Regions from separate parts of the Homo sapiens genome. Here regions 1 and 3 are each reported to be linked to region 2. Evidence: microRNA targets listed by miRTarBase, many of them from high-throughput screens and not tested one by one. Region 2 holds a microRNA gene; each other region holds the end of a gene's coding sequence.

Region 1 (5,225 bases), not on the chromosome of region 2:
GAATCCTATTAAAAAGACTTCAAGCAAGTCCTAGAATAAGCATGAATTCAGCACTCCATCTCCTATCCTCTCAACTCATGATGGTTCCAGGGAATACTCAAGTTAGTAAGACTCTGAGGATGTATTCAATCTGTAGCAGACTGCTTGCCATTGAGTCAATGAAGATTGAAAATTGGTTGCCTAACTCATAAAAAAATGCAAATGGCCTCAACATCTAATCTCATGGAATCAAACATTTTTTAAGGACAGGTGCAGTGGCTCACATCTGTAATCCCAGCTCCTTAGGAAGCCAAGACAGGAGCCAAACCAGCCAGGACAACAAGGCTAAACTCCGTTTCTACAAAAAAAATTAGCCAGGTGTGATGGTATGTGCCTAGGGTTCCAGCTATTCGGGAGGCAGAGGTGGATCACCTGAGCCCGGGAGGTTGAGGCTGCAGTGAGCGGTAATTGTGCCCACTACACTCCAGCCTGGGTGACCGAGTGAGACTCTTTCTCAAAAAAAAAAAAAAAAGTATAGAGATGGAGTCTTCACTATGCTACCCAGGCTAGCCTTTAAAAAAAAATGTCAATAGCTTTTGGGGGTACAAGGGGTTTTTAGTGACATGGATAATCTGTATAGTGAAGTCTGACATCTTAGTGCATCCTTCACCTGAGTAGTGTACATTATACCCAATATTCAGTTTTTATCCCTCATGCCCCTCTTACTCTCTTCCCTTCTGAGTCTCCAAAGTTCATTATACTCTGTGTGCCCACAGCTTCACTTAGAATAATGGCCTCCAGATCCATCCGAGTTGTTGTAAAAGTCATTATTTCATTCTTTTTTATGGCAGAGTGGTATTCTATGGTGTAGAAATCAAATTTTGACTTTAATAAACTCATCACATGGCAACTACGCGAGGGCTTAACAGCCTGTAAGAATAAGAATGCAAGTACTCAGACAAAGAAATGTCTGGGAAACACCGAACTCCTACAGAATGGCCCAAACTCCCCACATTGGAGCAGGGGTATAGCACTTGGAAACCATTCCTTGCATACCCGGACTATATCCCTAAAATCACCATTGAGGCTTATGCAAAGCCATTTCAGGTTCTGCCAGTAGCTGTGGAGCCAAACAGGCTCAAGGTGCATTATAGGGAAGTGTCTATTTATATAAAATGAAGTCTCAAGGCAGTAAGTACTAGGCCACAGCAGTTTGCTCCAGCAAACTGTAATTTCCCAATAGTTCTGGCTTCCTATTTCTCACTCCCTGTCTCCAGTAATTTGGAGTCAAATGAACCCCTCTTCCAATCCATCCAAAGAGGTTCTGACTCCAACTTGGGAGTCACCACTTTTCAATAATAGACTCAGATCTTTATCCTTTTACCACAATGACTATTAACCACTGTCACCCCTTCTGTACAACCCAATTGCAGAAGGATCCTCTGTTAACATGGCCCAAAGCACTCTCCAAGGCACTTATGACTTCATACTCTATCAGCTTGTAGGACTTCATGTTCCCTTCTTGGGTCATATGCTGATTAATAAGCTCAGAGGCAGAATCTGTGTCCTGTCTGCTTTGGAACATCAAGAGTGCTTGACATAGTAGGTATCTGATAAATACTTCTTAAATTAGAAAAAAAAAAGAGAGAATTTTTAAAAATACAGAGCTAGCATAGAAAAAGATGCCCAGTGAGATTTTTTTTTAAAATGACAGTGTATTACATACTTAATTTGGTTGAGAAGTGTTTATTGTAAAAATGGAGTTTATAATGAAAATAAAAAATTATTTCATAACATTCTGATACCACTACACCTGAGTTCGATGCCAGCATGGTTTGAAAGTGAAGCTGATACAAGTTTTCTAAAGGATGTTAAAAAACTATAGTATGAAGAATGTAATAATATTTTAGAAGACATTAAAACTTAAATATTTAGATGCTGTATATGAGAAATCACACCAAGCTCTCTTAATTAGGTTAACATTAGACAACTACATCTCAATTTCCAAGCTTCCAAAAATAGGTAAAAAAATTATTTTAGTTTAAGTTGATATTAAAAACACATTGGGAGCAGGAATCCATTCTTTCAGGTTTTAAGAATAATGTTATGATTATTAGATTATTATCAATGATTAGAAAGTTAATGTCAAATATCTTCTACTTTCTTGGTTTTTTAACATTCGATTTTTTCATTAGATTAACATGCTAGCTTTTCCTGTCTTTCTGTTCTTGGGTAAGTGAATGATTTATTAGACCTGGTGCTCAATTTACGAGCTTTTCTCATTTCAACTTGAAGAAACTGCAAATATTTATAGAAGATGAATCACATGTATTTGTTCCTGAAAAATGTCAGAATACAGCACTCAAATCAAATGCCGAACAGAAGCTATTCCCTAACACTACATACTGTGGCGAGTTAATTTCCACTGACATGTTTTCCTAAACAGTTTTTCCCACTATGATTAATTCCCAAATCAAAAATTACTGAAATCTTTCATTAAGTGTGTATTCATGTTACCAAGATATAGAAATCTAAACAATCATAAAGAATTTAAGAATCACACCTTTAAAAACATATTGAATTGACTCAGTTAAATTACTCTTAATCCTAAAAAATACATAAGTTATGTTCCAACTGATTTTCCTTGCTTTTATTTTGCTCGCTTGCTACTTTAAGGGTGCTTTGTTTAACTCCACAATAAGATCCCAAGTCTAGAAAATTAGAATGCAGAGGAAATGAACCAACAGAGCATATACTCCACAAGGGCAGGGGCCATGGCCAGTTTTACCTGTTAATATATCCCTTCTGTCTAACACAGTCACACTCAAATTTGTGTTGACTCCAATTTAAGGTTATCACTATGGGTAGGAGGGCAAAACAGCAGAAACTTTTGAAGGCAATTTGGCAATACAGGTAAAAGGGCTGACATTTTACATACCCTTTGACTCGTAAGTCTATATCAAAGATTATCCTAAAGAAATAATTATATATGTGAGCAAGTACTTGGATTCTAGAATGTTCTAGGCCCTGAGCTTTTTAAAGTAAAACCCAGCCAACAACCCAACATCCTGGAAGGGGTGCCTAGAATGCCTCCCTCATCATAAATACAGGCTGAGTGGCTGCCACATACCAACCAGAGTTTGCATGCTTCACCCAAACCCCCAACAAACGTCTTCAACACTCACAGCCACCTTGTGAGGTAACAGACCTGCTCTCATTTCTTATCTTATCTGGTTGACAAAAAGTGAGGCACAGGGAGGTTAAATAACTTAGGAAAAGGAGGAGCCAGGTTTCAATCTGGCTGCCTGATCCCAGAGCCCCAGTAGTGCCTTCAAAACAATGTTGTCCAAAAAATGAATTTCTCGACTCTCCTGATCTTTCACCCATCTCCTTTTTTGATAACCCTCCTAGGGGATCATAATCAAAAATTCTCATAGGCACACCCCCACCAGCTGGCAGATCTCACTGATTTTGGTGATGCACAAACAGCAAAATCTGTGATTATCTTTAAAATATAAAAATTACTAAAATATGTTTTTCCCAATGTACTACCATTCTCCTAATTCCTAATTCCTCATTCACAACACTTGCTGTTAGCAGAATTATACTTCATGGTTTCGGAAGACAAATGTGAAGTCCTAAATAATATAAACAAAATGAAGTTTACTTGTGGTGGCATGATTCTTTTCTTTAAAATTTCTGTGGCCTGTCCAGGAGTGGTGGCTCATGCCTGTATTCCCAGCACTTTGGGAGACAGAAGCAGGTGAATCACTTGAGGTCAGGAGATGCAGACCAGCCTGGCCAACATGGTGAAACCCCATCTCTACTAAAAATACAAAAATTAGCCAGGCGTGATGGCACACGCCTGTAGTCCCAGCTACTTGGGAGGCTGAGGTGGGAGAATCGCTTGAACTCAGAAGGTGGAGGTTGCAGCGAGCTGAGATTGTGCCACTACACTCCAGCCTGGGCAACAAAGTGAGACTCTGTCTTTAAAAATAATGATGATAATAATAATCTTGTGTCCCATGGCCTATGAGTACGGGGACTGGTTGACCATCACCTGCAGAAATGAAAAGGCAGACTGACCGGAATTAGGCCAAGTGATTCCGGGTCCGGGGACAAGGAATTCCTGGGCAAGTACATGAAGCCTGGACTTCTCTCGGGGTGCTCATTTGGGAGCAGCGAAGTATAAAAATTCAAAAAAAAAATATTCACAGTAGATGCCAGGGCCTCGGGGTCAGGAGCTGGGATAAGTAGTTGGGAGAAGTGGGTTGAAAGGTGGCACCTGAGAGGCAGCAAAAGTGGTGGAGCCTATAGGTTTCTGCCTGGTGAAACTTCCGGTCAGGGCTTGTTTTAGCTTTTAGAAATAAACAAGTATAAGCAAACAAAAGTAAGCCAGAGAAAATACATCTAAAATCAAATGAGCAAGCAGTCAAGATTTTGTTTTATTTTATTATGGCTAGAAAGACACTGTTATAGCCAAAATCGGCAATGACACTAAAGAAATCCTCTGTGCTTTTCAATATGCAAATATATTTCTTCCAAGAGTTGCCCTGGTGTGACTTCAAGAGTTCATGTTAACTTCTTTTCTGGAAACTTCCTTTTCTTAGTTGTTGTATTCTTGAAGAGCCTGGGCCATGAAGAGCTTGCCTAAGTTTTGGGCAGTGAACTCCTTGATGTTCTGGCAGTAAGTGTTTATCTGGCCTGTGCATTTGAGAAAGAGATAGAGCCATAATGTTCCACAAATTGTAAAATGATCCAGAAAGCTAGTCAAACAGAAAAATCAGCATAAAACAGAATCACCTGTTTATTGTTTTGAATCCAGAGTTTATTTTTCCATAAGGGATAAGAAATACAAGTTCTTTTGAAAATAAGCTACTGTCCACTCTCAATTACATGGAGAATAAAGAAAAACTACTCCTCAAAAGCTTATCAGCCCTAAGGACATAATAGCTGTCAGTCAAAAGGACTGACTAAATAGATCAAACCAATGCTGTACAACTGAGAAAACAGCGCTGACTAGCCTTCACAGGTAGAAAGGAGATACTAACAATAAATCACAGAGCTGCAAACCAGCCAGACCCACTGGACCCAGATGTGAACAAGTACGGTAGGTTTTCAGTTTGTGCTTTGGGAACGTTAAGGAGTTTTCTCCTACGAGCCAGACAGAGTAAGAGTAAAGAGTTCACTTGAAGAAAGGGCTCCATCATTGCTTTTTATGTCTTTAATGATCTAATCCCATGCAA
Region 2 (5,197 bases):
AATACTTTTTAAACACCTGAATATTATAATAATAATATCTTAAATTGTATTATACTTTTCAATTTCCAAAACGTTCCCAACTTCTTGTAACTTTATTTCCATTTGATATGGTGCCCTCTTTTAAGTAAAGCCACCACTTCTCAAATTTTCTCTGCAACTATGAATAGATTGTGGGTATGTGAATGAATTTGAAAGGGTTCCTCTGTTACATTGAGAACATAAAAAAAGTCACTAAGGAAAAACAACTAATGTTAGTCAGAAATGTCTCCTTCTAAGCAACGGCTGATAAAGGGGGAAATGGCAACAGTAACAACCTCAGAAGATTGCAATGGAGCTTAAATGAGTTAAAATATTTACAGCACTTAGCCAATAACTGGCACATAGAAAGTGTTCACATGTTCGTCCAGCAAGGCTGGCCTGTGTGAGTGCTCACCAGGTGCCAGGTTGAGGCTGTACAGTTCAACACAGATTTCAGGAAAATCATGCACCTGTCTCTTTGCAAACATAAAATCTGGAAACAGCTCACTCCTCAATGGACAATAATAATCACTGCTCTAGTTGCATATGAAATGGGAATTTTCCTAACCAGAATTTCAGCTGGAGACTCAGCCTGGGACAGTAGTCATTGCCGTGTGATCCACAAGCTATGCCATCCATATGGACTCAGAAGAGGGGGATTTCAAAAGAATTCTGCAACCTCTAGGCTATTAGTCACCCTCCAGTCTACATAAGGGAAACAAGAGTTATAGGGAAGAAGGCCGGAAAAAGGGACTTTTTTTTGAGAGACAGTGGTTGGGGACCATGTTTCCCCCCACTCCCTCCTTTCCCAGCACATCTGACTGCCTCCTGCCCACCTGCCCTCCTGCCTTCCTGCCCTCCATCCAGCCCTTTCCAGAAAACAGCAGCCAGGTCAACTATTCACAAACAGCCCCTTCTCATCCTTTGGTATTTTTAGATATCAGTGTTTTATAGGGATGTCTTGTTTTTCTTCCCCCCCCAGAAAACATATCAGAAGTCAAAAGAACAAATGCAGGCTGAATTAAAAATGGACTATGAGAGTTATCTGGAACTGGAAAAGACTGTTCTTATCAACCTTGGCCTAATCAAAGTCACAGAGAAGGGGTCATACATGGAGGTGATGTAAAAAAGCTTCCTGAAGGGGTGTTTTGGGGACTTCTTCCCTCTATTTATTTTTATGTCAGGTGAACTGGCATGCTGAACATATATATATATAGGCTCATTTATAGACTTTTATTTCCCTGCTATTAAAACTTTTGAATTTTAGCAATGAGATCTATTTCAGTTTTTGTACCATGTATGTACCAAATTTTGTACTGAATATGAAAGTGTTCTTTTTTAATGAATGTTTTCAATAACAAAATTTGTATTTTCCTATAATAATAGAGAACTTTGGATGTCCCTTCCATCCCAATCCTTGCTGTCCACACAGAGGCCCTCATTCCAGGCAGAAGGGGAAATCAAACTGCTCCTACTTATCAGCTTGCTTTTGGCCACCTTTCCAAAAAAAGTGCTTCCCCTTGGCCACTGTACAAACTGTAGGGCCATGTGCTAAACAAAATATTAGCAAATCAAATCCAGAAATATATATATATATATATTTTAAAGAGGTTAACACATGAAGACAAAGTTGGGTTTATCCAAGGAAGATAAGGTTAATTTAAGAGTAGAAAATAAATCAGTGATTAATCAAAAGAGAGAAATTATGATGCCAAGTCGATGCAGAAAAACATTTCATAAAAGTTGACATCAATTCATGATAATAATGATACATTCTTGGCATCTACAGAAAGAATTCCTGTAATGTGATGAAGGGCGTGTAAAACAATACTACACCAAACATGGTACTTCATGGTGACAAGCAGAAAGCTTTCCCCTGAGATGTGGAACAAGACACAGCTCACACCATCAGGTGCCTGACATCATGTACTGCAGTTGCCTTTTTGTTCCCATGCTGTTTAAGCCTAGCATAGGCACCAAAAAGCAACAACAGTATGTGAAACTGAGACACAAAAGAGCTTGGAGCCAGATTGTGAAGGCTCCTGTTTACCAAGCTAAGGAGCTGGATTAGAATTTATGGGGAATGAATGGAAGGTCTAAACAGGAAGTTGACCCAATCAGCTTTATTTTTAGGAAACAAGGAATGAACTAGAGCAGGGGAGAGTCTCATGGCAAGAAATCCTATTAGGAGGCAGGAGGAATTGTTCAGGGCAAAGGATTAGGATGCCCTGTACTAAAGCTTAATGTGAAGATAGAAATCAAAGGCTGGTTGGATGGGGAAGGGAAGACAAAGGATAATACCAAGGTTTATAAGTTAGATTGCTAGAGGAAAGAAAACTTTGTCGGATAGATTTTAGCTCTTAACCACCTGTGTGCCCTTGAACAGATGACCCAGCTCTGTGAAACAGATTCCCCTTCCATCAAGTCAGGTTGAGAGAACTTAACTTGCAGCATTTATGTAAGGGGCAAATGAGCCCCTGCAGATAAGGGGCCTGTGCCTGGCACATATTATTGTCATCATGATTGAAATATCCCAGGGCTCATCCTTACACTTGAACTTCTTTTATTCTTTCTTTTTTCTGCACTCACTTTCTAGGTGCATGCATCCACTCTCAAGGCTTTAGATACTACCTCTGTCCCTGACCTGGCCTTCTCTCTAAAATCAAGAGATGTGTATCTATTTGACCTTTTGTATCTCCACTTGGATGTTTAATAGGCATCTCAAACTTAAACATGTCCAAAATTGAGTGCTTGATGTTTCCCTTCAAAAACCATTCCTCCAGCAGTCCTCCCAGCCATGATGCTGCTTGGGGCAAAAGCCTTAAGGTCATCCTTCATCTCCTTTCTTTCACAATCCACATCCAATCTGTCAGCAAGTCCTGTTGACTACACGTTCAGTATGCATGTGAAACCTGATCGCTTCTCTTCTCCCTCACTGCTACCACCATGGTCCAAGCTGCATCATCATCAGCTTGGATTTTGCAGCAGCCTCCTGTTCTCCCTGTTTCTATGTTGTCATTTTCAGTCACTTTCAGCCACAGCCAGATGGTAGTTTTAAATGGATGCTGTCAGATGCTGTCATCCTTCTGCCCAGAATCCTTCCTCAACCTCATAGTATGATCACTCAGAGTATGTTCCCAATGCCTGTCTGTGCCCTGCAAGCCCTTGTACAGGCAGGCCTTCCACTGTCACCTGGTCCCATCCCTCCTTCCTCTCCCCTCCATCACACCCATCCCAGTCATGCTGGCCTCCTGTTCACCAAACATGCCAGGCATCTTCCTCTCCCTGGGCATCTGTGCTTGCTGTTCAGTACTTTCTCCAGAGATTTTTCTAATTTTATTTTCACGAGTTCACTCTAAAAAATGGTTTGTTTGTTTTTAAAGACAGGGCCTCACTCAGTTGCACAGGCTGGAGTGCAGTGATGCAATCATAGCTCACTGCAGCCTCAAGCTGTTGGGCTTAAGCAATCCTCTTGCCTCAGGCTCCTGAGTAGCTAGGACTACAGACACATACCACCACACCTGACTTTAAAAAAATATATTGAATGCCTTCTATGTGCCAGGGTCTACCATTTTAAACAGGATGGTCAGGGAAGGTGACACTTGAACAAGGCCTGAAAGAGGTGAGGGGTTTCACCTGTAGTCTTCTAGAAGTGTGTTCCATAACCCAGTCTCCCTCTCTTCAATGAAAAGAAGCTGGGACTACAGAGAACAGGTGTGTCATAACTGAGTGTCATAAACCATGACTGGAGGCTGAGCACATTGTTGTCTCAAATAAAAGCAGGGTGTTGTTAGCATAAAGGACTGGAGTAATGGATATTGAATAAGTGTCTGCCTTAGGGTTAGCAAATATAAAGCTTAGTATAGTGGCTAGCATACGGCAAGCAGTAAATATGTTTTGCCTGATTTACAAATACAAAATGGTTGTAACATTCTTGCTATAGAAACTAAACATGGGGCTCCTTATGGTTATGATAGCAGTTATTATTAGTTCAGTGTGATTTTTGTCTTTATTCTTTTTCTTTTTTCTTTTTTTTTTTTTTTTTTGAGATAGAGTCTCACTCTGTTGCCCAGGCTGGAGTGCAGTGGCTCGTTGTTGGCTCACTGCAACCTCTACCTCCCAGGTTCAAGTGATTCCCCTGCCTCAGCCTCCTGAGTAGCTGGTATTACAGGCATGTGCCACTATTCCCAGCTAATTTTTGTATTTTTAGCAGAGACAGGGTTTCACATGTTGGCCAGGCAGATCTTGAACTCCTGACCTCAAGTGATCCACCTGCCTCGGCTTCCCAAAGTGCTGGGATTACAGGCATGAGCTACTGCTCCCAGACCTGGTGTGGTGTTTTCATTGTGTGTTTATAACCTCAGTTTTCCTGAGTCTCATCACCTGTGGCCACCGAGAGGACACATAAGCAGCCATAGCCCAGGTTTCATGGGACCTTGGCCCACTTGCTTCTCAGGTATGCTAGCCTTCTGCAGAGTGCCCCCAAGTGTGTCCAGTGGCCACTGGGATGAAGATGGAGTCACATATGTTCAAGCCCACAACCACCAGGCACTCAGGGATCCCTTCTCTCAAAATGCTAGAGCTGCCTAATGGCCTGTAACGTGGGGGAAGGTGCTGGGACAATGCTTCTGGGTTAGTTCAAGTTCAGCGAGAAGCAAACACCAAGGCAGTAGCAGAGGTGCAAGAAGCAAGGCAGAGCCTTCAGAGCTCATGCAGGTCTGGTACCTATGGAAGAAAAGAGGAAAGGACAGAAGATGATACGATTCATCTCAGACCACTCAGCGTGGTTTAATTATTCATGATACCTCTCTTGGACACTAAGACTTTGAAACAGACAAACTCATAGTGATGTCTCTTCCTTCTCTGGGATGAGTTTTCTCTGAGGCTCTTCAACCCCTTAAGCTAAGGTCCTTTTGTTTGGCCCAGAACTTCCATTTGGCAGACAAGGCCAGGCATGCTGAATCCCAGTAAAGAACACAGCTGAGCCTCAAGCGAGGATGCTAACCACCTGTACTGAAGATGTAGGAATATCAGGTGTGAATGCAAATAGAATTAACTGGTATGCCTCCTTCCAATCCCCACAGCTCCAACCCTTTCCCCTACCACCCATTGTGAGTCGATCTGATCTTCTGACCTTAAGTCATTTGGTCTGGTCTACAGTGTAGTGAAAAGACAGGGG
Region 3 (5,225 bases), not on the chromosome of region 2:
TTTCCTGTCCCCATCTAAACCCTTGTTCAGTCATCCCCCATCCTTTCACCTCTCAAACAAGCAAGACACCAGTCCCTGCAGCTGTGTATTATCTTCTCCTTTTTCCTTAAGGACTGAAGCTTCAATAGGAGTTCCAGGCATTAAGATGGATGGTGGAGATGCACAAGAACATGGTCATTTCCTTAGACTACCCCAGGTTAGGAGCACCCACTTTCTTTTTTCTTTTCTTTTTTTTTTTTTTTTTTTTTTTTTTTTTTGAGACAGAGTCTCACTCTGTTGCCCAAGCTGGAGTGCAGTGGCACAATCTCGGCTCACTGCAAGCTCCGCTTCCCAGGTTCACACAGTTCTTCTGATCAGCCTCCTGAGTAGCTGGGACTACGGGCGCTGGCCACCACGCCTGGCTAATTTTTTTTTTTTAAGTAGGGACAGAGTTTTGCCATGTTGGCCAGGCTGGTCTTTAACTCCTGACCTCGGGTGATCCACCCACCTCGGCCTCCCAAAGTGCTGGGATTACAGATGTGAGCCATCGTGCCCAGCCCACCCACTTTGTTAATCATGATCAGAGCAGGGGTGCCATTCTACCACCTTGGCACACCTGCCTAGAGGAGTGAGTGGCGCTGGGAGCAGACTGAGGAACATCTTAGCTGAGCAGTGAATCCAGCACTGTTCTAAGGAAGCTCAGATGGTCTGTGACTCATCCCTGTCCTCTGGACTGAATCTGAGGCCTTGGAACTCACCCAGGGTCTTAGTGGAGGCACAGCTCTGAGCTATGGGTGTAGAGCATCTGAACCCATCTACACATTGACCAAACACAGGCAGGTTCCAGTCTGCGGGGGAGATGGAGAAGGTGCCACCATGCTGCTGCACAAATCCCAGGATAGCTGGGGAATGAGAATCCAGCACTTTGGGCCTAGGACCTGGAAGGAGAGGTCTTTTGGGAGAGGTATGGGGACATCTGAAGGAGGACTTCTTGGAAGGGGAGGGGCTGGAGCAGAGGCAAGAGTGATTTTGTCAGATGGAGAGAAGGTTCTCCACATGGGCGGGGCTGGCAGAGGCAGATGCCCAGACAGGTCACAACTCTCTAGGTGCCCAATTACCTGCCCTCGGTGAGCTCAGCCATCGGCGGGGAGGTGCCCCAGCGCTACGTGTGGCGTTTCTGCATCGGCCTGCACTCGGCGCCTCGCTTCTTGGTGGCCTTCGCCTACTGGAACCACTACCTCAGCTGCACCTCCCCGTGTTCCTGCTATCGCCCGCTCTGCCGCCTCAACTTCGGCCTCAATGTCGTGGAGAACCTCGCGTTGCTAGTGCTCACTTATGTCTCCTCCTCCGAGGACTTCAGTGGGTGCCTGGATGAGGGAGGAGTGGGGAAGTGTTCCCTGAGGGGACGGGCCTGCCCCTACCACATTCGGACCTTCCTACTTCGTGGTGTGGGCACTCCCTGCAATGTGGCTCCCAATCCTCTTTCCCTCCAGCCATCCACGAAAATGCTTTCATTGTGTTCATTGCCTCATCCCTCGGGCACATGCTCCTCACCTGCATTCTCTGGCGGTTGACCAAGAAGCACACAGTAAGTCAGGAGGTACGGTCTATCCCTAGCGGGGGCTCCAAGGCAGCCCAGAAGAAAATCAAGGACATCTGTCCTCAGGATTCGGGTAATGGTGAGGTGGGAACTGAGTTCTAATGGGAACCCTGGCAGAGGGGTGCTGGGGTTGGGGCTGGGGCTTGGGAACAAACTGAGGGTGGTTGGTCAGAATCTAGGACTATAGCACTGTGTTTGGGTAGTGTGGGAGACTGGAGAATAGAAGAGATGGAGGCTGCAAATGGGGATAGAATGAGGAGTCGCATCTAGGCGGCAGTGAGTTAGGAACAGTGTCAGAGGACTGGTCTGTCATAATTCCAGCGCCCCACCCATGTACATGGGTTTCTTTTCCCCCACAGTATTTGGAGGTGGGGTTGGTGGGTGACTCCATGTAACTTTCATACTCCATCCCCCTGAAGTGGAAGCGGCAGGAATACCACTGCTCCTCGGCCCATCACTCCCCCAGAGGCAGGGACGTGAACACATAGTCGTCATTCTTGCTGCCCCTGCCTGTGCTCCCTTCCATGACCGCTAGTGGGAGCCAAGGGAGATAAGGCCCAGCCCTTAGGAGTTAGGGCTGAGAGGGGAGCCCACGCTCTCATACCCAGCAAGCTGCAGAGTGATCAGACAGCCCATTCCCTAGGATCGCAAGTCCTACAGCTGGAAACAGCGGCTCTTCATCATCAACTTCATCTCCTTCTTCTCGGCGCTGGCTGTCTACTTTCGGCACAACATGTATTGTGAGGCTGGAGGTGAGGCCAGGATAGGATCCACAGGCGGTCATGAGTGGCTGCGGGGCAGCAATGATGTTTTTGATAATGGGCAATGGTCTTGGGGACTGGCTGCCATTGTGTTCTCTGTGGCAGACCAATGGTGGTGTGATTTATCAAGAGGCCTCTGAGCGGGTAGCTGGAAGTTCACCATGTCCTGTTCCTTGTGTCCTCACAACAGTGTACACCATCTTTGCCATCCTGGAGTACACTGTTGTCTTAACCAACATGGCGTTCCACATGACGGCCTGGTGGGACTTCGGGAACAAGGAGCTGCTCATAACCTCTCAGCCTGAGGAAAAGCGATTCTGAACCCTTCAGTCCTGCTTGGGAGGACGCAGCCCACTGCCCAGAAACAAGAAACACGATACCATTCTGGCCTTCCCCACCCCACATCCTCTCTTGGCCTTACTGAAGATGGGGGAAGGGTAAGAAGGAAGGGTGTAGGCCAAGGCTCACCCCAGTGCTGCTGGCTTCTCCTCTCCACCCCTCATATGGGCGTGGGGTCCTCAAACATCACCTTTACCTGAGAGGCCCCAAGAAGCTGAGCTGGCAGAGAGCTCCACCATTTGGTGCTAAAAAAAAAAACGTCCTGAGGTTCATGACCACCATCCAGTTTCTGGCCTTTACACAGTCACCTTTCACTGAGGTCAGGAGCCCCTGAGCAGTGGCTGCTCCCTGACAACCACAGCCATTTCTCTGCACGGGGGTCATTCATAGGACTAATGTATTTCATGATCTACTGTGCACATCCAGGCCTGTGGCCACAGTCCCCTGCTAAAGTTGCTCAGGTGTTCTAGTCCTGACTTCACCTTTTTGATTTGGTGTGTGCCCTAGGGTATGTACCCTTCCCCATCTGAGCCTCGGTGTGTCCATGTGTCTGGCGGGGGATGGGTGGACTGTATGATTTCCAAGGACTCTACCAGTCAGTGGTTCTGATGTCATCGGGTGGAGGTGGTGTTCTATACCTAAAGGATGACCTGCTCCAGAAACAGCACCAGCACAGCATGTATTTTCTTCTCTTCTGAAAGTTCTGGCTTGTAGACCCCTCCCCTCCTTTGCAAAGGTATGGGATAGAGGGGTCAGATGCAGATCTCTACTGTAAAATGGGCTCCCTGGTATCTCCTGTCTTCCCTACTGCTCCAAACCCTAAATTTTGGTTGTACATTTTATTTGAAAGGAAAATAAATTTTTTTTTTGGGCCAACAGTTGCCTAGGCTTGCTAGTCTTGGGGCTCATCTTGTTTGATAGGAACTGGGAGAGAAACAGGCTCAAGAATGGGGAGGGAGTAAGTCCACGGCAGGGTATGATTCCTAGCAGAACCCCCCAGTCCCCCTTAGGTCTGGAGTCTCCTAAAGCTGGTCTAAGCCTTTATTTTGGTGAGCAGGAGTGAGTGAGCTATCTGTAATGATTCTAGGACTGCAAGCTAGGGTACCTGGAAGTCTTCAGTTGAGACAGAGACCTGGGTTCAAATTCCAACTCTTGTTGTTAAAGCTGTCCTCTTGGGGATGTGAGGTACAGCTGTCACATGCATGACTGTGGGAGCATCTGCCTTTAGACTAATGGCTCTGAACCTCTCCCTTTCTGAGCCCTAAGATCAAGAAGTCTTTCCTCAGGTTTTGTGTCTGAGTCCACTACAGCATCTGTGACTGGGCCCCAGAGCAAGACTGCCCCCTCCAAGGGAGCCTAGAGCTTTGTTAGGGAAATTGAGGGGTGAGGGGACCACAATGAAGCCTATTGTCTACTAGAAGAAACAAAAGGCTCCCAGTCTCTGGGGAGCCCTAGCCCATGCCCACCCGCTAATGCCCAGCACACAGGGAGGAGCCGGGGCCACTGGAGACAGGAGGTTTTATTGATGCTGATGGGGGTAGGAAAGGTCCCCAGAAGCATGGGGGCTGAGTCAGTCAGCAAATGCGTAAGGCCTAGGCACAGAGGAGCAGGTTAGGGCACATTCACCTTCTCAGGATTCTGTGGCTCCCTCATTGGAGAAGGGAGAGAGCATCTTGGGGGCGCAATTCCAAGAGCAGCGAGGGCAGAGGTTAGAGATGGCTGAGAGCCCCTAACCTGAGGCGGCACCACAATAGGCAGCAACAACTGTGTGGAAAGCTGGATGAACTGGTCAGTAGCGGAAAATGGGAGGGGGCACTGGGTTGGCCTCTTGGGGAGGGGTCCAACCTTGGCTTGGATGAGCTCATGAGAATACCCAGTGTTCCCAAGCAGAGGGGGGCAGAGCCCAAAGCCCCTTTCTCTGCAGGCCTCCTTAAGGAGAAAAAGGCACTCAGAGAAAAAGGCATTCAGGGAACCCCCTGGAAAGGGGTGCCAGAATTAGTCCTTAAGGCACAGCTGAGGCGGACAAGGCACCAAGGCACAACTGGTGGGGGGAGGGCAGGGGCAGCCTCCAAGCCAAGTGCCAGGGTCACAAGAGGATGCAGGACCGCCCACGCTTGATCGGCGTGGGGTTGAGCACAGCCCGGACAGCCTCGGCGAACACTTCCTTGACACCATCCTGTTGCAGGGCTGAGCATTCGAGGTAGCGCACAGCGTGGATCTGCTTGGCCAGTGCCTGGCCCTGCTGCGGTGTGATGGGCGCCTGGCCCTGCTCCTTGAGGCGCCGTAGGGTGTCAGGCTGGGCTCTCAGGTCCTTCTTGGTGCCCACCAGCAGGATGGGCACATCAGGGCAGTGGTGGCACACCTCTGGATGCCACTTGTGCCGCACGTTCTCATAGGACGGCGGACTGGCAATGGAGAAACAGATGACGAAAACGTTGGTCTGAGGGTAGGAGAGTGTACGGAGGCGGTCATACTCCTCCTGGCCCGCAGTGTCCCACAGGTTCAGGTTCACTGTGCGCCCGTCAACTGCGCTCTGCGCGCTGTAA

The links. The annotated mature microRNA hsa-miR-4423-3p reads AUAGGCACCAAAAAGCAACAA and lies in region 2 at 1,988-2,008, shown strand. An mRNA with a match to its seed (bases 2 to 7 or 8) in the 3' UTR can be bound and repressed. Matches are read on the target gene's strand: a 7mer-m8 pairs with bases 2 to 8, a 7mer-A1 pairs with bases 2 to 7 and ends in A, and an 8mer does both.
Region 1: miRTarBase lists EIF3H as a target of hsa-miR-4423-3p. Seed matches in the 3' UTR shown: 7mer-m8 at 3,414-3,420.
Region 3: the mRNA of RHOG is a reported target of hsa-miR-4423-3p. Seed matches in the 3' UTR shown: 7mer-m8 at 4,273-4,279.

The regions. Positions count from the first base shown.
Region 1 is chr8:116,640,421-116,645,645 of GRCh38, forward strand. EIF3H (eukaryotic translation initiation factor 3 subunit H) reads right to left here. Exons shown (of 8, transcript NM_003756.3): 8 at 1,710-4,683. The coding sequence ends at 4,586. Among named protein-coding and RNA genes, the nearest start is that of EIF3H, 110 kb to the right of the region's middle.
Region 2 is chr1:85,131,855-85,137,051 of GRCh38, forward strand. It overlaps MIR4423 (microRNA 4423), which reads left to right and starts at 1,940; the gene lies at 1,940-2,019. It overlaps DNAI3 (dynein axonemal intermediate chain 3), which reads left to right. Exons shown (of 23, transcript NM_145172.5): 23 at 1,001-1,284. The coding sequence ends at 1,144.
Region 3 is chr11:3,822,798-3,828,022 of GRCh38, forward strand. It overlaps RHOG (ras homolog family member G), which reads right to left. Exons shown (of 2, transcript NM_001665.4): 2 at 4,181-5,225. The coding sequence ends at 4,766. PGAP2 (post-GPI attachment to proteins 2) reads left to right here. Exons shown (of 7, transcript NM_014489.4): 4 at 1,086-1,338; 5 at 1,473-1,579; 6 at 2,223-2,331; 7 at 2,531-3,574. The coding sequence ends at 2,661. Among named protein-coding and RNA genes, the nearest start is that of RHOG, 16 kb to the right of the region's middle.